3 linked regions of the Homo sapiens genome follow. The protein of the gene in region 1 purifies or fractionates together with the protein of each later gene. This does not show direct contact. Each region holds a gene or a part of one and is shown in the gene's direction. Other genes may lie near its edges.

Region 1 (7,666 bases):
AACAAAACAACTGTCCAGAGGTAGTTTGTGAACAAAGGAAAAATGGAACCAGAACCTGGGGGGGTGGCAGGAGCAGGAGGGCTGGGAGTGGGAAGGGTGAGCTCCTTGTTATTGGTGCCCCATCTGAGGAGAGGAAAATGGCCAAGTGGTAGAAGCAAAGTAGGGTTGGGGGAGCAGCCCCAGCCCACCTCAGGTAGCTGCCACAGGGCTCATGGGCCTCACCTGGACAATAGGTGACTGCATCTCCATCACTGCAATATGTACTCAGATCCCAGGCAGACGGTAAGGGGGCTGGGGCCACTGCAAAGAGGGAGTAGGGGACTCACACCCCTCCCGCTTTCCTGTAGCCAATGGGGGCTGTCCAACCTAGTGCAGGGACTAGGGAAGGTGGGGAAGGATGAAAGGTGTGAGCCTCACGTGGTGACAAAGACAGTTTGGCTGGGGGAATCCTGGGGGCCAGCACCCCCCTCCATTGGCCACACCTGCTGCTGCCAGGACAGTGGAGTGGGGTGTGCCAGAATGGGGGCTTGGGCCCCTTTTAAGACCAGGGGAACCCTCCCAGGCCCCTCTATGGGAAGCCAGAGGCAACAGTGGAGGAGCAGAGAAGTGGCTCCCAAACCAAAAGCCCAGAGAGCAATGTCACCACCAAGGGATCAGGGACGCAGCAGGTGCAGGGTGCGGCTAAGCAGGACATTAGCCTTGTCCAGGAGGGCACATGTGTATGAGTGGGTGGACGGGGGGAGGAGGGGGTAGGGATGGGAAGAGGCCAGGGGAAAAGTCCTCTCCACTCAGCCCATAGGGACCTGCAGCGGCTGGTGTGTTGTGTAGTGTGGTGGTGAAGGTGCAGGTGGAAGATGAGGGTGGTGGCTGGAGGCGGTGGTGATGGTGGGTGTAGGGAAGGGGTGGGGGGTGGGAGGTGGGGGGTTGGGAGCAGATCAAAGCTGTCCAGTCCCAGAAGGAAGCTGCTCCTCCAGTGAGGACTCCTGCGAGATGCCCTTCTCTTCCTCCTTCTCCAGTTTTTTGGGTCTTCCCCTTGGTTTCCTTCCCAGAGTTGTGGTGGTTTTCCCGGTCTTGGCAGCACCCTTGTTTTTGCTTCCCTTTGGTCGGCCCCGAGGTCTCTTAGGTGTTGGCACTTCGCTGAGCTCCTTCTGACTCCCTACCAGCGCTGTCCTGGGACTCACCGGAGGCTGCTTGCGCGGCCTGCCACGGCCCCGCTTCTCAGTGCCGTCCTTTTTCTGCTTGGAGGCCAAGGGCTGGCTGGACTTCGAGCTCGACTCGCTCATCTTCCCTTCTCTAAGGACTAGTTGGAAAAGTGATGGCTGGGATGGGCGAACTCGGCCGCTGGCCTGCGGTGCATGCTCCGGTTTGCCGGGAGCAGCGGTGCTGGGCGCTGAGGACAGGCCAGTCTCCACCGCAGCCGCCCCTGGTCGCAAATGCGGATGCCTTCCTGGAGCCGCGCCAGCGCCAGAAATAGCCCAGGCTCGGAGTCCCACTTAGAAGAGCACAGCCCCGGCTCAGGGGAGCTTAAAAAGTTCTCTACATTTTTTTTTTTTAACCAACTATTCTTATCTCCATTTTATGGTAATTTACCCAGTATCATACAAGTAGGATGTAGTGAAGTCAGAATGCATTCACATGCAAGTCTGTCTGACTCCAGAGCCTCTCAAAGACATTTGCAACAAATATGAAAAAAGATAAATATCCCCGAGTAAATTAAAAGCTCATATAAAAAAAAAAATGGCCGGGCGCAGTGGCTCACGCCTGTAATCCCAGCACTTTGGGAGGCCGAGGTGGGTGGATCATTTGAGGTCAGGAGTTCGAGACCAGCCTAGCCAACATGGTGAAACCCCGTCTCTACTAATAATACAAAAATTAGCCAGGCATGGTGGTGGGCGCCTGTAATTCCAGCTACTAGGGAGGCTGAGGCACGAGAATCACTTGAACCCGGGAGGCAGAGTTTGCAGTGAGCTGAGATCATGCTACTGAACTCCAGCCTGGGTGACAGAGCGAGACTCTGTCTCAAAAAAGAAAAAAAAAACTAATAAAATAAAAAATAGAAGAAGAAAAATGGCCAGGCACAGTGGCGCACACCCACAGTACCAGCTGCTCGGGAGGCTGAGGCAGGGGGATTGCTTGAGCCCAGGAGTTCAAGTCCAGCTTGGGCTATATTGCAATAAAAATTTAAACTATAAGAAGAAAAACCATTTAAGATCCCAAAGATAAGCAAAGGACATGACATTTCACAAGAGAGGGACTGTAGATGACTAATAAATATAGTATTGACATTCTGATTTCTAGTTCATCAAATTGGAATTATTTTAAAAACAAGAATACTCAGCATTGGCAAAGGTTTAGTGTGATACCATGCTGCAACAGTATGCATGAAGACATTAAAAAATGTTTTCACTTCCTCAACCCTGCAATTTCAGTTCTATAAATACAACCAAAAGGCATTTTCTGAAATGAAGATAAAAATATATTCTCCAACAAATTCTCTGCGGTATTTTTATAATAGCAGAATATTGAAAACATGTCTTTAAAAAGAGAATAAATAATTGACATGCTATATATACTGAAATATTATGCAATGATTAAAGGTAATCTTTTTTTGTTTGTTTGTTTTTGTTTTTGAGACGGAATCTCGCTCTGTCACCCAGGCTGGAGTGCAGTGGCAAGATCTCGGCTCACTGCAACCTCTGCCTCCCAGGTTCAAGCAATTCTCCTGCCTCAGCCTCCGGAGTAGCTGGGATTACAGGCGCCTGCCACCAGGCCTGGCTAATTTTTTTTCTATTTTTAGTAGAGATGGGGTTTCGCCATGTTGGCCAGACTGGTCTTGAACTGGCCTCAAGTGATCTGCCCACCTTGCAGGCATGAGCCACCAACCCAGCCATTAAAGGTAATCTTTAGAAAGAATTTGCAATGGCATAAAGCAAATGTTTATGATGTAACGTTAATTGAAAGAAGCAGGATACAAACTTACACATCAATTATGATCTCATATATGTAAACCACTATGTGTTCAACAAAAGGAAAACTTCAAAATGATAACAGAGGATACGTTTCCTTCCTATGCTCTTTTCTATTTTGTAAGTTCTCTACAATGAGTTTGTTTCCTTTTGTAATCACTTAAAAAAAAAAAAAGACTAGTCCCCAAAACTCACTTTAGAGACATAAAAAGTTTACAAACAATCTCTTGGGAGCTCCCTCAATTCCCCACAACAGTCTCCCTGAACCTGGTTCCTTCCAAAATGTACTTCCAAATGTGATCTTCCCAAACCTTTGCCTATTGCCCCGCTAAAACCTTGTCTCATATCTGTTTCCTAAAATTCATTATCCCCCCAAATCTGCTGTTTCCTAAGTCTTGCAGAACTCAAAATCCCTGAAGTCTCATTAACCCTATCCACCAGTGAGAACAGCCCTGTAGCAAGCACCAGGAGTGGCCCATAGCCCAGGCCAAGCTTGACTAGAGCAGGGCTGACTGGACTGAGTAAAGAGAGTTGTTTCCTTAGACCTCCCCTCCCAGCCTCGCATCTGACACCCGTGATGGTGACCAGAAGGGACAGAGATATTTTTGCACAAAGGCTCTTCAAATCCGTTTTCTTTCTTCTTCTTCTTTTTTTTTTTTTTTTTTTTTTTTTTTTGAGACAGTCTCTCTCTGTCACCCAGGCTAGAGCGCAGTGGCGCGATCTCGGCTCACTGCAACCTCCGCCTCCCGAGTTCAAGCAATTCTCCTGCCTCTGCCTCCCGAGTAGCTGGGATTACAGGCACCGCGCCACCACATCCAGCTAATTTTTTGTATTTTAGTCGAGACGGGGTCTCGCCATGTTGGCCTGGCTGGTCTTGAACTCCTGAGCTCAGGCAATCCTCCCGCCTCAGCCTCTCAAAGTGCTGGGATTACAGGCATGAGCCATTGAGACCGGCCCCGTTTTCTTTATTTTAAAATTGATTGGCTCTTAAACAATTTGACTTTCAAGTGCAGTCTCTGAATTATTTAATATATTTCTTCCTCTTGAAATTCTCGAAATAGATTTTTTCTGTTATCTTCCCTCTCTAAATGCTCATCCATTTAAATACGCACCACCATGTAAGAGACTTACTACATTCATTAGCTGTTTCAAAATCCACTTCCTGTTCTCGGGCTCTACACCACCCACTGACCCTTTCCCTCATGGCTTGAGTGTAACAAAGCGTTTGAGTGGGCACCGTGCAGGTGTAGGTTTTCTGCCCGAGTACCGACGTGGCTTCCTTGGTCATCTAAACTCCCGCGCGGTGGGCGGGAGCAAGTAGGGGCACTGGGCGGCCCAGAGCCAGCCCACTGTTCCCGACACCGACCTTAACGGCCGACCCTGGCTCTGGCGCATCCCCAGCTGAACTGAAGCTCACCGAGCCTTCGTGCGCCATCGCCAACGCGGTCGCAGCAACGCTGGTGTTTCTGCTGCATCCGGGCCGCGTAAGCCACCTAACAGTCGCCTGGGCAACCACGGGCTCGGGGTCGCTCGCCCCGCCCACAGTTGCCCCGGCAACCGCGCCGCCCGCGGCACGTTCCGGCCGCTCACCCCGCCCAAGGGCCGTGCGTACGTGCGTCGTCTCTATGGTGGCGGCGGATTTGGAGGGACCCTACGAACCAGGAGTCAGGCGAGCCGATCTGGGGCTGCAGGTGTTACCTCTGATCTAGGCCGGGGGCTTCAGGGATCCGAGCCGAGGGAGAAAGCCTTGGGGGCTTCATCACACTTATTTGGCTCGCGGGCTTGGGGCCATCGGGTGGTCCTGTGTCATCCCCATTCCTCCTCTGCGATTCCCCCGTCGCCCCAAAACAGCCCTGGGACTCCCCTGTCTTGCTCCTCGAGACCCTCCCCCATCACCGTCCTCTGGGCACCCCATCCTATGACCCAGTCTCAGGCATCTTCCGAAATGCTCGATGATAGCCGCCCTCGGGCATCTCCGCTGCGTCTGTTTGTAGCGCGCCTGGTGATTCGGCTGCACCCCCACACAGGATGTTCCGCTGGGAGCGCTCCATTCCCCTGCGAGGCTCGGCCGCCGCCCTGTGCAACAACCTCAGTGTGCTGCAGCTGCCGGCTCGCAACCTCACGTATTTTGGCGTGGTTCATGGACCAAGCGCCCAGCTTCTCAGCGCTGCTCCTGAGGGTGTGCCCTTGGCCCAGCGCCAGCTCCACGCTAAGGAGGGTGCTGGAGTGAGTCCCCCACTTATCACTCAGGTGAGGCATGGAGCTGGGAGTGATGTTGCTGAACCCAGTCCTACCCCCAGCCTTTTCTCTCCAAACCTTCAGGAGCAGGCATGTCCTAACCTCAGAATCTCCCCAGGCATGTCCTAACCTCAGAATCTCCCCTCTCCTGCCGGGCGCGGTGGCTCACGCCTGTAATCCCAACACTTTGGGAGGCTGAGACGGGCACTTGAGGCCAGGAGTTCGAGACCAGCCTGGCCAACATGGTGAAACCTCTTCTCTACTAAGAATACAAAAAAAATTAACCGGGTGTGGTGGCGTGCACCTGTAATCCCAGCTACTTGGGTGGCTGAGGCAGGAGAATCGCTTGAACCCAGGAGGCTGAGGTTGCAGTGAGCCGAGATGGCGCCACTGCACTCCAGCCTGGGCCACAGAGCAAGACTCCGTCCCCCAAAAAAAAAAAAAAAACAAACAAACTCATCTTCCCTGCTTTGATTTTCTCCCTACACTGATGCACCTCCCTCCAGGTCCACTGGTGTGTCCTCCCCTTCCGAGTGCTGCTGGTACTCACCTCACATCGAGGAATACAGGTAAGAAGAGGACTCTCCTGCTTGCCCCACCAGAGCCTTCTCAGCTTCCCTGCCAGGCTTCCAGACTTTCCCACTTGCCTCTAAACACTTCCAGACTTTTCACATGCTTGGCCCACTCACTCTTTTTCTATTTCTTATCTTCAATCTTTCCATCTTTTCCAGTTTCCAAGTGCCACCTCCAGTATCTGCCCCTTTACTAGCTGTATGTCCTTACACTATTAACTTCTCACTCTCACTGTTGTCCTCTGAAAAAATTAGGATAAAAATAGTACCTACATCCCAGATTTGTTTTGAGGATTAAATGGGCTAAGGCTAACACGGATATGTGAAGTACTCAGCAGAGGTCAGTTGGGTTATGCCCCCTGGTTCTTGCCCCGGTCTTCCAGATGTACGAGTCCAATGGCTACACCATGGTCTACTGGCATGCACTGGACTCTGGAGATGCCTCCCCAGGTACCTGCAGGACCAAGTGGGGTGGGGGCAGGGAGTGTTTGCTAGGGCTGCAGGAGGGGATATTTCTGATCATTCTCCCCTTTCATATTCAGTACAGGCTGTGTTTGCCCGGGGAATTGCTGCCAGTGGCCACTTCATCTGTGTGGGTGAGGGAGCCAAGTGCAGGGCATGGAGGGGTGCTGGGGCATGTGGGCTGTGGCCAGGAGAATAATGAGGGCCTGAGGAAATTGTGGAAAGTTAGAGGGAAGGGTGGAAGTGGAGTGGAATCAGAGACTCCAGTAAACCATGGAAGGGTTCAGAGGGTCAGGGTGGGATAAGACAAGGCTAGTGAATGAAGGGGCATGGCCGTTGGAGCAGTGAGAGGGGGTTTTGTTACTAAGGTTTCTGGGATGGAGTAAGTGTTGAGTATGGTGGCTGGAGACCCAGGAGGGTCAGGAAGTCATCACTGGAGTACTGGTTCTGGATACAGGAACGTGGTCAGGCCGGGTGCTGGTGTTTGACATCCCAGCAAAGGGTCCCAACATTGTACTGAGCGAGGAGCTGGCTGGGCACCAGATGCCAATCACAGACATTGCCACCGAGCCTGCCCAGGGACAGGTGAGTGGACTTCCCCTACCCATCTGGGAGCCTTCCCCACCCTGGGAGGCAGGGGACCTGGCTTTGAGTCTTGGCTCTGCCACTAAACAGGTGGATGGCTTTGGGCAAATCTACATTTTCCTAGTCTTCAGCAACCAGGTTCAGTGATAAAGCCAGAGATACTTTACATTTATGTAGTATTTTATAGTTAATTAAGACTTTATAATACTGATGTGAAATGAGGAGTTGGAACAAATGGTTTCTAAGATACTTTCCAGCTCTGAAATGTGCAGCTTCCTTCTCTAGGGCAAGTCCCACCTATTCAGGCCCAGCTCCAGTGCCATCCATCCTCTCCAGGAAGCCTTCCCCATATTCTAGCTCCCACTGATGTCTCTTAGCTGAAACCTGAATTGGCACTGCCCTCAAAAGACAACTCTTGTCTCCCCAAGTAATTTGCAAACCTCTTGAGAACAGGGTGTATATTTTCTTATTCATATTCTCCATTGTACCTGGCATAGGGCTAGGCCCATAGGTTGTGTTGGCTGCCTGGTGTTGGGGGTGCAGGGGCCCAGGGTCTAGTCATGACTGTGACTGGTTCACTACGAGACCTCCAGAAGGTCACGACACTGTGGCCTCAGTTTTATCATCCATCCAGTGAGGCAATTATGCACCCCCTCCTAATGTTATTGGGGGATGGGACTCCATGAAGAAATTCAAGGAAAGCAGTTCATGCTTCCCAAGGGAACCCTGGTGGTAGGGGTGGTTTCTGATGGGTCTAGCTAGTGAGAGCTCCACACCTTGCCCTTTCCCTGGAGAGGCAAAGATGCACACACTGCCTCCCTTCCCCTCCTGCCCTGTATACAG
Region 2 (7,821 bases), on another chromosome or scaffold:
ACAGCTGTGTGGATGGTAGATGGGAGGAGGAGAGATCAGAGCAGTGTACTGGGGCTGGAGGATATCAGTGTTCACGTAGAGAATCTGATCAAAACTACAAGTCCTATCCCCAGGAAGCATATGCAAAAGCATTGCTTATAAATTCTAGGGAGTTATGGATCCCCGTTCCCCATAAAGCCCATCCATTTACACCAAGTTAAGTGCCAACACCTTGAAGCCTGAGCATGCTTGGTATGTTTGAAGAACCCAAGGAAGACAATGTGTCTAAAACAGAACAAAGAGAATAGTAAGAAGACAAGGTCAGAGGGGTAGGCAAATACCAGGTGATGTAGAGCTTTCTGGGTGTCTCAGCCTGCCATAACAAAATACCATAGATTAGGTGACTTCACAGGATTTTTATTTTGAGTTCGTTTTTTCACAGTTCTGGAGGCTGGGGATTCCAAGATCAGAGTACCAGCCAATTCAGTTTCAGGTGAGGACTCTTCCTAGCTTGGAAAAGCCACCTTCTCAATGTCATCACATGGCCTTTCCCTTGGTCCATGCAGTGGGGAGAGCTCACTCTTACAAGGCCACTAATCCCATCATGAGGGCCGTACTCACGACCTTATGTAACCCTAGTTAACTCTGAGAAGCCCCATCTCTAAATACTGTAACATTGGAGTTAGGGCTTCGACATATGAATTTGGTCGGGGACACATTCGGCCCATAACACTGGAGAAATACACTGGACTTCACTCTGGGAAGGGAAGCCACTGAGGAAAGCCAAAAAGGGAGAAAGGTGTGCTAAAGTGCTATCCAAAGAGCAGTTGGAAGTTTAGATCTAGGACTCAGTAGAGAGGTCTGGACTAGAGAGGTTTGCGAGTTGTTGGGTGATTGAGCCCATGGGCATAAGTGAAACTGCCCAGGGATGGAGTGTATAAGAAAAAAGGACCATGTCTGGATGGGAAGGATGATCCCTGAGAGCTTAGCCTAAGTCAGAAGGAGCAGCTGAGCTGGAGGAGAAGGTGAAGTAGGGGTAGAACAGAGCCTGGGTGTCTGCAGAAGCAGAAATGAGAGGCTCAGAACTGAAGATCCACTATTCAGATATCACTTCCAGGAATTGTAGGGAAGGCCTTTAATGGGCCAGGACTTCCAAGTGGCCACGGCTACTTAGAGGTAGTGTGTCAGAGGGCCAGGTACTAACAGTTAAGGGGGCTAGCCAAGGGGAAGGAAAGAAAAAGGAACACATTTTAATGGATCAGGCCCTACTGCAAAGGCATTTGTGTGTTTTTCGTTGGTTGGTTGGTTGGTTTGGCTGGTTGTTTTTTTAGAGACAGGATCTTGCTCTGTTGCCCCAACTGGAGTGCAGTAGCCTGATCATAATTCACTAACTTCAAATTCTTGGGCTCAAGCAATCCTCTTGCCTCTGCCTCCTAAGTAGCTAGGACTATAAGTGTAAGCCACTGCGCTTAGCTAATTTTTTTATTTTTTGTAGAGAGGGTCTCACTATGTTGCCCAGGTTACTCAAACTCTTGGCCTCAAGCAATCCTTGCCCTCCCAAATGCCTTGGTTTCCCAGAGTGCTGGGATTACAGGCGCGAGCAACTGCATCCGGTCAAAAGGCATTGTTTTAACTGCTTCCTTAGGCACATTATCTAATATTCACAGCCACCTTTACTCTGCACATTGGCTAATTATCCTCATTTTAGCCATGAGAGATGAGAGAGTCATGAGAGAACTGAGACTCAGAGAGGTTAGGTAACTTGTCCAAATTCATATAGCTGGGAAGAGAAAGGTCTAGGATTCAAAGCTGGCTCTGTCTTGACTCCAGAGCCTATGTCCTGTTCACTATACCACACTGCTTAGGGACCAAGAAAAAGGTCTGAGAAGCTAAGGGAAGAGTACACTACAGCAAACTCAAATGCTTTTGGGAGCAAGGCAGGTAACAAAAATGCATGAAGGCCTAACATGAAGTAATGATGCTAAGGTGTTTATTACATTCCTATCCTAGTTGTATTCCCTCTTATTTATTTATTTTAATTTTTTTGAGACAGAGTTTTTGCTCTGTCCCCCAGGCTAGAGTGCAGTGGTGTGATCTTGGCTCACTGCAACCTCCCCGTCCCAGGTTCAAGCGATTCTCCTGCCTCAGCGTCCACAGTAGCTGGGATTACAGGTGTGTGCCACCACACCCAGCGAAGTAGAGATGGGGTTTCACCATGTTGGCCAGGCTGGTGTTGAACTCCTGTCTTGAACTCCTGACCTCAAGTGATCTGCTGGCCTTGGCCTCCCAAAGTGCAGGGATTACAGGTGTGAGCCACTGCGCCTGGCCTGTATTCCCTTTTAAAACAGAGCACAGAGCAGGCAAAATAACCAAATTAAACAAAGCCTTGGGCTGCCAGCCATGGGATACTGTATAGTCCTGATGCTGAGATATCAGTTAAGGGAAGGACCAAAAAGTATTCATGGTGAAGCAGTTTCAGTGGGGTTCAGGGAGCATAATACCAGTTGCAATGAGGTGGGGAGTGAGGATGTTAAGGAGGTTCCAGTTGTGAGTGTTGTCAACTCGTTCAAAACACTTCACTGGGAAGGAAAGGAAGGAAAACAGACTAGCAGGGATGGAAGGAGAATGTTAATATGGGAAGGACTTGGGCTCAGTTATGGCAGGACAAGACTTTTCAGTGGTGTGGTAATGAGGAAGAGGCAGCCTGCTGACAAGTTCAACTGGACTGGGGGAGAGGAGGTGGCCAGGTGCAGGAGATGGCTTTAAAAAGGTAGTTGGCCGGGTATGGTGGCTCTCACCTGAAATCCCAACAACTAAGGAGTCTGAGGTGGAAGAATCACTTGAGGCTAGGAGTTCTAGGCTGCAGTGAGCCACCAGGGTGCCACTGCATTCCAACCTTGGGCAACAAAGTAAGACCCCTATCTCTTTAAAAAAAAAAAAAAAAAAAAGGTAGCTGGAGCCTGTGGAGAGCCTGGAATGCCATGCCAAGGCATCTAGACTGTGATCTGGCAAAGAGTAGGAAACCACTGAAGGGATGTGTCATGTTGACAGTGATGCTGGCCGGGCGCAGTGGCTCATGCCTGTAATCCCAACACTTTGGGAGGCCGAGGCGGGCAGATCACCTGAGGTCAGGAGTTCGAGACCAGCCTGGCCAACATGGTGAAACCCCATCTCTACTAAAAATACAAAATTAGCCGGGCATGGTGCCCTGGTCCATGCCTGTAATCCCAGCTTACTCAGGAGGCTGAGGCAGAAGAATCGCTTGAAACCAGGAGGCGGAGGTTGCAGTAAGCCGAGATCGTGCCATTGCACACCAGCCTGCGCGACAAGAGTGAAACTCCATCTCAAAAAAAAAAAAGTGATGTCTTCTGACATTTAGCTTAGCAGCCAGTGCAAGGTAGAAGAGAGAAAAGAACAGTGATACAGAGGAACATAGCAATGCAGACAGAAAAACAAATGAAGGGATGAATGTAAGAAAGGTGTTGGAGGAAAAAGCATAATATGATGACTGATAAAAGACCCTGGGAAACAGATTTGGAAGCCAAGGCCCAAGTTTCAAGTTTGAGTAGCTGGAGGGAAAGATAATTAGTAGGTTTTGGAAGTACTGAAATTTACAGAAATGGTTGTTCATCAGAGTAAAAATATACAGCAGATGGCAAAAAGTAATCCTGGAGCTTAAGATGGAGGTAAGGAAGGGAGTCGCTGCCCTCAAAGAGAAATGGTTGGGGCCGGGCGTGATAGCTCACGCCTGTAATCTCAGCACTTTGGGAGGCCCAGGCGGGCAGATCACCTGAGGTCAGGAGTTCCAGACCAGCCTGGCCAACATGGTGAAACCCCGTCTCTACTAAAAATACAAAAATTAGCCGGGCATGGTGGCGGGCGCCTGTAATCCCAGCTACTCGGGAGGCTGAGGCAGGAGAATCGCTTGAACCCTGAAGGCGGAAGTTGCAATGAGCCGAGATGGCGCCACTGCACTCCAGCCTGAGCGACAAGGGCAAAATCCGTCTCAAAAAAAAAAAAAAAAGAAAAAAGAAATGGTTGGGAGGCCTTCGGAACAGCGTCGAGGAGGGAACTTCCCAGAGCCCCCAGGCGCATCCTCTGGGAACTGGACACACGGGGACGGACGGGACTGGTTTGCTTCATGGAGTATGAAACCAGGAGGGGCTTCACTTCAAGTAAACTTTTGGGAGGCGATGCAAACGACTCAGGACTTCTGATCCTTCCCTCGTCTAAAAGAAAAGTCAGTTACCATTTTTATTGAGTGCTTTCGGGGCCTTTCCATGATCTGACTGATTCCTCTCAGCCGCCCTGTGATGTGAGTGCCAGCTCCATGTTACGTAAGAGGAAGCCAAGGCTCAAACCCTGCCCGAAGTCACACAGCAAGAAATCACGAGCCGTGATTCCAACCCAGGTCCGTCTGACCCGAGCCTGCTCTAATGCCGTTCTGCCTGGGCTTTCCTCTGTTATAGGAACCTGAGGCCCCGCGCCAGCGGCCGGGGTCCCAAGCGCCGGGCTGGCTGTGTCGAGACCACCCCCAGCCCTGGCCCGGCCCTCGCCCTTTCGAGGGAAACCTACTCTCAGAAGCACAGCTCCCCAGCCGCGCCCAACGCCGCGCCGGCCTCTGGCTCGGACCAATCCCCCCGGGACGGTCCACCACCCAGACCAATTAGCTCCCGTCTTCAGGGCACCTCCCACCAAACCGCCTTCTGATTGGCTCGCTCTTCCCGTCACGGCGTTGCCCCAGCAACCGGACTATTGGGACGCTGCGGCCTGGCCTTCAGGCCACTGGCTACCGAACCCCGGGGCTCTTCACCAGTCCAGCTCGTTTCCAGCACCATGTCGGTGCGGACGCTACCGCTGCTCTTCTTGAACTTGGGCGGGGAGATGCTTTACATCCTCGACCAACGGCTGCGGGCCCAGAACATCCCGGGAGACAAGGCCCGCAAAGGTGAGAGGCCCCCGGCCCGCTCAGCCAGACCCGCAGCCAGCAGCCCGGCCCTCTCATCATCGCCCTAACACCCACAGCCAGACCCGCACCCCTACACACTTCACTCTTATAACCAGGGACCTTTCTTACAAGCCACATCCATTTGGAGCCCCTCGGGAGTCAAATCCCCCCAAAAGCTTTTTTCACAGCAGAGGAACTTAATACTCCCAGTGGACACTAGGGTGCCTGACCTCCCTAATTTCCCCATCTCTTCAAATGGGAGAGGTGATTTCCCAGTCTCTCTTGTCAATCAGTGCCTTCCAAATGTAGGAGTCCCAGCTGCCCACCATCTAGTATCATACCCCTTGCTAGTCCAAGCATCCTCTTTACCCCCAAGGAACAGGTTCTGATTTTTTTTTTTTTTTTTTTTTTTTTTTTTTTTTGAGACAGGGTCTCGCTCTGTCGCCCAGGCTGGAGTGTGTGGCACGATCTCGGCTCACTGCAACCTCTGCCTCCTGGGTTCCAGCGATTCTCGTGCCTCAGCCTCCCAAGTAGCTGGGATTACAGGCATGCACCACCACACCCAGCTAATTTTTGTATTTTTAGTAGAGATGGGGTTTCACCATGTTTCCCAGGCTGGTCTTCAATTCCTGGACTCAAACGATCTGCCCCCCTCGGCCTCCCAAAGTGCTGGGATTATAGGCGTGAGCCACCGCGTCCAGCCCAGGTTCAGATTCTTAATTTCTTTATGGTAGTATCTTCCCACATAAGCTGGAGATTGGTCTTACTCATCTCAGAAGTATTTCTAGAAATTTGGTGTTCTAAAATAATATAGATAAATATGAAAAAAATAAGAAAGTTATAAATCTCCTCACAAGTGTTGGAGGGGAATACAATTGTGAAAATAATTATATGAGAGCTTCGAAAATGCAAAATCTGCCTCCCATGGACACCACACTAATCCCCAGAAAAATGACGACTCAGAACACTCTGCCACTCTGTTCCTTTTCCTCTTTTCCTCCCTTCTCGGCAAACAACTTGCTTATACCAAATTTCCTAGGATTAAGTATGAAGGAAATATTATATTTCAAAGTGGAGGAGGAAAAGTTGAAAAGGCAATTGACATGGCCGCCAATTAAAACATTCTCTCCATTAATCTTTGTATGCTCAATTGATGTTCAACATACATATTCAGATGCTAAGCATACATATTCAGATATTAACTATTGTGTGTGTGTGACTGAGTGCAAGTCCATGCATAAAGAGCTAAAAATAACTCCCTATAACATACCCCCTCCATTCATTCTGCACATTGCCGCCAATGAGCTTTCTAAAATGTGTATCTGTCCAAACTTGCCCCTGCCTAAAACCCTTTGTCAGCTTTCCACTGCCATCTGGGTTAAGACCAAGTCCTTGCACAGGCCATTTCAGGGCCCTTCCTTATCTGATCTCTGTCTTCCTCTGCAGTCCCTTCTTCCACCACTGCCTGCCTCCTGTTTCCCAATAATACCAAACTGCTCATAGATCTCCGCTTAAACCATGTTTGTTCGTATTTCTGTGCTAGTAATTCCCATCCCTACATTCTTCCCCTTCAATCCTGCATTATTCGGCTTAAGAATCATCTCCTTCAGGAATCCTCCCCATATGCAGAAAGGGCCTGTGCATGCTCTCATAGCAGCCTGTGCTCCCATAGCACCCCATGCCTGCTCCTCAGTACCTTACCACTGGCCATGCTATACTGAAATGATCTGTGTATATGTCTATCTCCCGCTTGATTGTCTTATTCATCTTTGTACTCCAGCACCTACCATAATTCCTAGACCAGAATAAATTAGTGATCACAAAATGTTTTTTGAACTGATTATCTAAATTGGCAGTTTTATATAGCATTGTCATTTTTCCTTTGAGAGGGTTCTGTTTTCCTTGGTGCCTGTGTGATCTGATTTCATTCAGGCTAGTGGCACCAATGAGGTGACATGCTGGAGTCCTCAGACTGGTAGGTAGTCTGCATCTTGGAAGATAGTGTAAATTAGCAATTAAGAACATACTCTCTAGAGTCTTACAGACCTGGATCCCAATTCCAGCTTTACCATTTAACTAATTGCATGCCCTTTGGGTGTAACCTCTATAAACCTGTTTCTCCATAAAATGGTAATAATACATATATGTTAAAGCAAAGTTGTAAGGATTGAATGAAATAATGTATTTAATATGTTTAACACAATGAGTAATAGGTATCTTTCAAGAGGAGGTCTGGACAAGGCCCTTGGAATACTAGAGGACAGCTTTACCTTTAGGAGTTATAGCCTTTTTTCTGCTTTTGCTAAATATGGTTTTGGGAGTTTCGGCCATCTTTAGTAATTTACATTCGCACACTCATTCATTCCACAGATTTTGACTGAGTGTCAAACACTATGTGAGATACTATATGGAGCCTGATGCAGCCCTTCTGGACATTCACTGGAGGTAGGGCTATTGATCAGTCCACTCCAGTAACTGATTCTAGTGACAGCAATCAACAATAAAACAATGAAAAATCAAGCACTTACTTTGTACCAAGGGCTCCTCTTAAACACCTTAATCCTCCCAACTATTGTAACACATAGGTAATATTACTATCCCCATTTTACAGATGGAGAAACTAAGACTAATTTGCCCAGAGTTACATGGCTGGTAGGAGGAAAAGTAAAGGATTTGAGCCCAAGGCATCAGGCTCCAAAGTTCATACTCAGCCAATGTCCCCTTACTATAACCAATGTCCCCTCATATAACCAATGTCCTCATACTCAGCCAATGTCCCCTTACTATAACCACTTAGTCCCCTTACTATAACCACTATACTCTGCTGCCATACCTTGGGGACTATATCAGAATCTTAGTGGGGGTTGGTAGGTCAGGAGGAGAGGGAGGAGTCT
Region 3 (6,752 bases), on another chromosome or scaffold:
ACTCCATGTGTTCCTGGAAGCTCTCGGAACCCTCTCCTTTTGGGTTTTTATGGAGGCTTCATTACATAGGCATGATTGATTGAACTATAGGCCATTGGTGATCAACTTAACCTTCAGGCCCTCTCCCTTTCCTGGAGTTTGGAGGAGGGGCTGAAAGTCCCAACCCTCTAACCCTGCCTTGGTCTTTCTGGTGACCAGCCCCATTGAAGCAGCCCAGGGGCTGCCAGCCATCAGTCAGTGCCTAAGCATACAAAAAGACATCATTTTGGAGATTCCAGGAATTTTAGGAATTATGTACTGGGAGAGAGGGTCAAACACCAAATATATATTTCACAATATGAAAGAGCCCAATTTACGTATTTCACGATTCCCTTCTTGTTACAGCTTAACGAGATTTTTTTATTTTCCTGACTTTTCGCTTTGGAGAATTAGTCAATAGTTTAGGTCTGTCTTGTTCGTTTAATATGGGGTTTGAATTTGAGATGGGGCTGACGTCACTTTGGGGCCCTTTTCTTTTCTTCTTTTTTTTTTTTTTTTTTTTTGAAACGGATTCTCGCTCTGTCGCCCAGGCTGGAGTGCAGTGGCACGATCTCGGCTCACTGCAAGCTCCGCCTCCCAGGTTCACGCCATTCTCCTGCCTCAGCCTCCCGAGTAGCTGGGATTACGGGCGCCCGCCACCACGCCGGGCTAATTTTTTGTATTTTTTAGTGGAGACGGGGTTTCAACATGTTAGCCAGGATGGTCTCGATCTCCTGACCTTGTGATCCGCCCGCCTCGGCCTCCCAAAGTGCTGGGATTACAAGCGTGAGCCACCGCGCCCGGCCCCTTTGGGGCCCTTTTGTACAGCTCAGAGTTGGCCTGGCTGCAGGGCTGGGACTATGGAATGGCAAGGAGGTGCCTCAGGTGCCAAATATTAGGTTGGTGAAAATTAATTGCGGTTTTGTCATTGAAAGCAATGGCAAAACCGCAATTACTTTTGCACTAACCTAATATAAGGAGGCGTGCAGTCTGGGGGTCAGAGTGAGTGTGGAGGTCTCGGAGAATGGCTGCTGGCCTGGAGGAGGCTGCTAGGTCTGGGTCCCTGCCAGCCTTGTGGGGACCAACTGCTGTATCTTGCAGGAATTTGCACGCTGGGTATGCAAGAGGCTTCATCTTTTTTGGAGTCTGGGAGCGCTGCAGTGGCAGAACCGACACGGCGGGAGGCGCTAGAGGACCCGGGGTGGACTCGGACGTGGGGTCAGGGAACCTGGCATTTATTCCTGCCCGGACTGCCCACTCATGCTGCGGAGTGTGGGAGGCGTGGGGAGATCGGCCGCCAGAGGGACGTGCGCCGTAGCCAATCAGCGTGTGAAGCAGGGCGCTATGTGGTTGGGGCCTCCCGTAACTCTTTACGGCCCCAGAGTGGCCCCCAGGTCCCCGGCATCCCCACATCGCCCTGTGAGGCAGATGAGCAGAGCCGGAAGGGCCGCACGGGAGGAACAGGGGTTGGCTTGTCCGGAGGCGGACGGATAACGCGACCCCGATCCCTGCGGTACTCTGCAGTCATGTGACTCGCCGCCTGGCGCATTTCTTCAAGTGCCCACCCCCTCGAGAAGGTGCCCCTGGGGTGGGGGCTTCACATCTGCTTTTGTTTAGTGGTCAGAGGACTACAGAGGGAAGCTCTCAGGACAAGGCCCCCAACCCTGTACTCCAGTCCTGCATCCTTAGGCCCCTCTCATGGACAATAGGGTCTTAGAAAAAGCGCCAGGGTGCTGGGCATGGACCCCTCAGGACAGACGCATTGGGAGGGGTCCAAGGAAACCATGAGAACCTCAAGCCCAGGTTGGGGAATCGGCCCGAGGGGAAAGTGGGTGTCTCTGGGCCTTGTCCTGCCTGGGTCCTGGACAGGGGGCTAGGTGGCTGCCCAAGCTGCAGTCTTGTGTCTAGGCTAAAACTGTAAGCTGGGAAAGACCCCATGGTCTGCCCACCACCCAGTTGACCCCCAAAAGACAGAAAGGCCACCCCACACTGGCCTGGAGCCCCAGTCCTGAGGTGCTGCAGCACCAGTGTGGGGTGGCCCGGCACTTGCCCCTACAGGGTTACAACCCATCCTTTCTGCTTCTCCAGGCCAGAAGCCAAGGAGTCCTCAGTGACGGTGGGATCCACAACATCTCCACATCGCTGTCCCCACCCAGCCAGGGCAGCGCCAGCACTAGCTCAGACGCAAGGTTGGTGTGAGAACCAGTGGGTGTGGCCAGGCGCGGTGGCTCACGCTTGTAATCCCAGCACTTTGGGAGGCTGAGGCGGGCAGATCACGAGGTCAGGAGATCGAGACCACGGTGAAACCCCGTCTCTACTAAAAATACAAAAAATTAGCCGGGCGTGGTGGCGGGCGCCTGTAGTCCCAGCTACTCGGAGAGGTTGAGGCAGGAGAATGGCATGAACCCGGGAGGCGGAGCTTGCAGTGAGCCAAGATCGTGCCACTGCACTCCAGCCTGGGCGACAGAGCGAGACTCCGTCTCCAAAACAAACAAACAAAAAGAACCAACGAGCAGAGGAGCATGTGGGCCTTCAGACGGGGATGTGGCTGGATCTGGTTGTCCCACCTGCCAGGGCCAGCTGCAGTGCTATGGTCTGCAAAGTGCTGGCAGGTGCCTGGCCCATGCTCCCTGTGACAACACAAACTGAGCTAATGTCCCCAGAGTGTTTAGCTCTGATGCTTGGTGCCCAGGGACACTGATGTCTGTTAACATGGACAAAGTACACCAGATGCTGTGTGGTCATGGGCTCTGTGTCCACTCCATCTCTGCCACTCTGTGGCCGTGTGGATCACCCTGGCATGTCTCAGTGTCCTCAACTGTGACTGGGTCCATAAGAACAGCCTGCTGTCATAACAGGGGTGGGAGGTGGGACTGGAAACAGTCCTCAGGGTGGAAACCCTTCGTCCGTGCTCAGCATGTGGGAGGCCCATTGGTAGTGGCTGAGTTCTTAGTCCATTAGTCATTCTGATGGCCCCTTGTGGAGGGTGTTTACTGTGCACCTTTTCCAGATGGGGAAAGTGGGGTTGGATGGGGCTGACGTTCCCAAGGCTGCCAGGAGAGGAACTGGCAGAGCAGAAGCCTAGTTCCATCAGGCCCCCTGTCAGTCTTGGCCCCAGCGAGCAGTGAGGCAGCCCCATCTGCCCCACCTCCCTCCCAGATCCACGTCTAGAGCCTCCCAAGGGCTTCCACCACTGACGGGATTTTGCTTCCTTCCTTAGGACGGAACCGCTGGACTCCAGGTTCCTTGCCTGGGAGTAGGAGAAATCCACCTGCTGGGGGCTGAGTGTGGCCTGAGGGACAGGCCCTGGGTCCCGGGATGCCCCTGCCCGAGCCCAGCGAGCAGGAGGGTGAGAGTGTGAAGGCCAGCCAGGAGCCATCCCCCAAGCCAGGCACAGAAGTCATCCCGGCAGCCCCCAGGAAGCCCAGAAAGTTCTCCAAACTGGTCCTGCTCACAGCCTCCAAAGACAGCACCAAGGTGGCGGGGGCCAAGCGCAAGGGTGTGCACTGTGTCATGTCCCTGGGGGTGCCCGGCCCCGCCACCCTTGCCAAGGCCCTCCTCCAGACCCACCCCGAGGCCCAGCGGGCCATTGAGGCAGCCCCTCAGGAGCCTGAGCAGAAACGGAGCAGGCAGGACCCAGGTGAGGCTCCACAGCGGCCCCCCAGGACAGCTCGGCACCTCCCAGGGTGGCCCCCACAGCCGCGCTGGCTCCATCAGGCGCTTCTCCCTGGCATGCGGGTCCTTGTTCCCTGACTTTGACCACGTGTGGAGAGCAGTGGCACAGGGGTTAGGGCACAGGCCTGGGCATCCGCCGACCTCCAACCCTGCCTCTGAGCGGCCTTGCCTCTCTGTGTCTGTTCCCCACTCTGGAATGCGCTGCCTACTGGCTCCTTCACAAGGGAGGGTCTGAGGGTGCGGCGGGGCCCACAGGCAGCTGCCGTCAGCTTCAAGGTCTTGGCTCGCAGCTGTTCGATGAGGGTCTCTAAGACCGGGGGCTTGATGGGTCACCTTTCCATATGTTCTAGAAAGCTTCTTTGGTCTCACTCACCGTTCAGTCACTTAGTAACATCCACTGAACAGCAGCTGTGTGCAGGCTGGGCTCTGGAGACTCGAGTCACGCAGGATGAGACTCCCAGCAGACTAAGGCAGTGACCTCAGCCTGGCTCTCCGGGACTGCCCCTGCTCTCCCTACCTCCTCTGCACAATCACCCCCCACCAAGCCTCCGGGGAGATACAGCTCAGGGCTCACAGGTCCCATGGGAGAGTGGGGCTGGGGGTGTGGCCCTAGCTGCTGCGGGCTGGCTGGAGGTGATGGGGCAGGTTCATTCCCTGTGCTTTGCTGTGGGAGTGATGGGATGGATGGAGGCACTGAGCATCTTCAGTCCCTGCTCCCACTCCCCAGGGCCCTTGGCTCTGCCCCTGCTGTGTACTAGACCTTTCAGCTAGACTTGGGGAACATAGTCAGGTGGGCCATGGTAGCAGAGATGGGATGAGAGCAGGGCTGCCCCTTTCCCTGCACCCAGCTCTCCCTGAGGTGGCCCAGGCCATGCCCTGCTGTCCCCTGCAGGAGGACAGGTCCCCTCCTGGCCCCACAGCAGGTCCTGCCTCTGGGCTCTACCAGGGCAGGCAGCGGTGGGGGCAGGGCCCTAGGCAGCAGAGGAAATGGGCTGGGTACACCTTTTGAACTGGAAGTTCCAGGGAGATGGGGCAGGGGGCTGCCCAGTGGGTGGGAAGAAGGTGAGTTGGGGTTTCTTCCCAACTGGGAGTGGGCTCTGCCGTGCCCTGAGAAGAAGAGGCGTAGCAGGTGGCCTTGGCTTGTGACCTCTGAACAGGTGGTCCCCTGGGGTCAGCCAGAACAGGTGGTCCCCTGGGGTCAGCCAGGGCACTCAGCCTGGCAGCCCATTGTGAGAAAAGGTTCCTTCAGTTTGCTGGCCGTGCAGGGACCCTGCCTCACTGATGGAAATTGAGGGGTGAGTGGCCTGAGGTCACAGAGGGTCACAGCCCCACAGCCTCCCTGGGGCTGAGACCCCAGAATGCCTGAGATGGTGGTGTCCGCAGCCACAGGCTTGGAGCTTTCAAGGAACCTAATGGACCCCTCGGCCTCCATCCCTCTGCTGGAGTCTCAGGCCTGGTGTGAGCAGTGCTCTGGGACTCAGAGGGACCCCGTCCTCCCAGAGCCGGTGGGAGTGCCTGGCTCTTACTGCGAAGCCCCCACCATCCAGTCCTGCTCTGAGAGCCTCTGCCTGTCCCCCTGGCTTCTCCTGCCAACCTTGGGCAGAGGATGCAGTCCCCATGGCCTGTGGGAGGCAGGGCTCAGAGGAGCGAAGTCGCCACTCTGAGGCCACCAGGAGGTCCCTGCAGAGGGCAGAGGGGGTTGGAGTCTGGCTCAGGATCTGTTACACCTGAGCTCTGTGGAATGAGACCATCTCAAGGTCCTCCCAGCCCCTTTGAGACTCCTGCTCACTGCTGGGATCCATCTAGGCCTGGGGCCGTGGTGCCTTTGTGAGAATTGGAGCACAGCCATCTTCGCCAGATGAAAGGCAGAGCAGGGCTCCATCAGGCGCCAGGGGTCCCGCAGGCAATCACCCTCAGGCATCGACCACCCCCATCTGCCAACTCCTCCATCCTTCCATCCCCACCCCAGGTCCAGCAGAGGCGATGGCTGCGGCTTCCCAGTGCTCAGCACAAACTTGGCCTCAAGTTTCCTGGAAATGACTTTAGCAGCTTTTGTGGCCCTGGCCTGGTGGCCTTGGGAGCAGCGTCCCTGAGTGGCAGTCACTTCTCAGTCAGGCAGAGGCTTCTGGCCCTGGAGCATCCACTGGTTGGGGTGAGAGTGAGGCCTGGTAGACCCCCAACAGCCAAGCTGAGCCCTCCCATCTCCATTGACACCAGCCTGATCCACCCTCTTCTCTCGCAGGCACAGACAGAACAGAAGACAGTGGATTAGCAGCGGGGCCTCCTGAGGCTGCTGGGGAGAACTTTGCCCCCTGCTCTGTGGCGCCCGGCAAGTCCCTGTAACCTTGACAACAGGCGCATCCTCCCAGGCCACCAACCCAGCCATAGGCTCTTCTCTGTCCGCAGGGCTTCTGGGGCCAAATGGGTGAATCTTTGCTTTTAACATTGTGTGATTTCTTTTCTTTTTTTTTTTTTTTTTAGATCAAGTATAAGTTACTTTTGTAAGCAGAAAAATACTTTCAAACAAGAATAAAAGAAGCTGTTCGCTAGACCCCATAATGGGCAGGTTTTAAACATCCCAGGCTTCTGGGTCCTTTGAGGCTCAGCTCTGATGCCACCACCCCTGGGTCTCCGCACCCCAGCCCTTACTGGGCCCTTCCAAAGTGCCCCTTAGTCACTGCCCTCCCTGACCCAAGTCTCGCTTCCTCCATGAAGCCTCCCAGACTGACAGCTCCCAGGCACTAAGGGAGCTCAGGCTTGCTGAGAATGGTAGCTCCAGGATTCTGCTGAGGGAGAGGTAGGCCTGCAGCTCATGGGTGGGTTCAGGGAGGAACCTGACAAAAGCACATGCGGCCTGCCTGTCATGTTTTTTCCAGGGGATTTGTGGGCTGAGGAAACCTGAGTTCCTGCCCTGGCCCCCTGGGTGCCATCCCTGCTGGAGGGGAGATGAAGGAAGCACAGCTACCCTACTTGAGCTCCCAAGTCAGCGAGCCTCCAGGAGGCTTCCCATGAGTCCTCATTCTTTGACAACTGCCTCTGGGCTCAAGGCAATGTTAGGG

The links.
Region 2: the proteins of WDR54 (region 1) and OSCP1 purify together in Homo sapiens (affinity purification with mass spectrometry; 3 studies listed by BioGRID and IntAct, with this or other methods). This does not show direct contact.
Region 3: the proteins of WDR54 (region 1) and FLYWCH2 purify together in Homo sapiens (affinity purification with mass spectrometry; 3 studies listed by BioGRID and IntAct, with this or other methods). This does not show direct contact.

The regions. Positions count from the first base shown.
Region 1 is NC_000002.12:74,417,160-74,424,825, forward strand, and holds the start of WDR54 (WD repeat-containing protein 54), read left to right. Parts: upstream 1-4,570; 5' UTR 4,571-4,591; coding exon of another isoform or gene 4,592-4,657; intron 4,658-4,960; exon of another isoform or gene 4,961-4,993; coding exon of another isoform or gene 4,994-4,994; coding exon 4,995-5,216; intron 5,217-5,710; coding exon 5,711-5,773; intron 5,774-6,159; coding exon 6,160-6,226; intron 6,227-6,318; coding exon 6,319-6,372; intron 6,373-6,695; coding exon 6,696-6,823; intron 6,824-7,666. Other genes in the region: uncharacterized protein C2orf81, read right to left, coding at 4,384-4,401. UniProt on the Homo sapiens protein: Plays a role in the adhesion and fusion of the sperm-oocyte membrane through its interactions with IZUMO1 and IZUMO1R/JUNO.
Region 2 is NC_000001.11:36,447,364-36,455,184, reverse strand, and holds the start of OSCP1 (protein OSCP1), read left to right. Parts: upstream 1-4,733; 5' UTR 4,734-4,815; coding exon 4,816-4,927; intron 4,928-5,619; exon of another isoform or gene 5,620-5,727; intron 5,728-7,297; exon of another isoform or gene 7,298-7,344; coding exon of another isoform or gene 7,345-7,372; intron 7,373-7,821. UniProt on the Homo sapiens protein: May be involved in drug clearance in the placenta.
Region 3 is NC_000016.10:2,893,114-2,899,865, forward strand, and holds the end of FLYWCH2 (FLYWCH family member 2), read left to right. Parts: intron 1-2,106; 5' UTR 2,107-2,207; intron 2,208-3,238; 5' UTR 3,239-3,336; coding exon 3,337-3,658; intron 3,659-5,662; coding exon of another isoform or gene 5,663-5,733; exon of another isoform or gene 5,734-5,841; intron 5,842-5,935; coding exon 5,936-6,036; 3' UTR 6,037-6,252; downstream 6,253-6,752.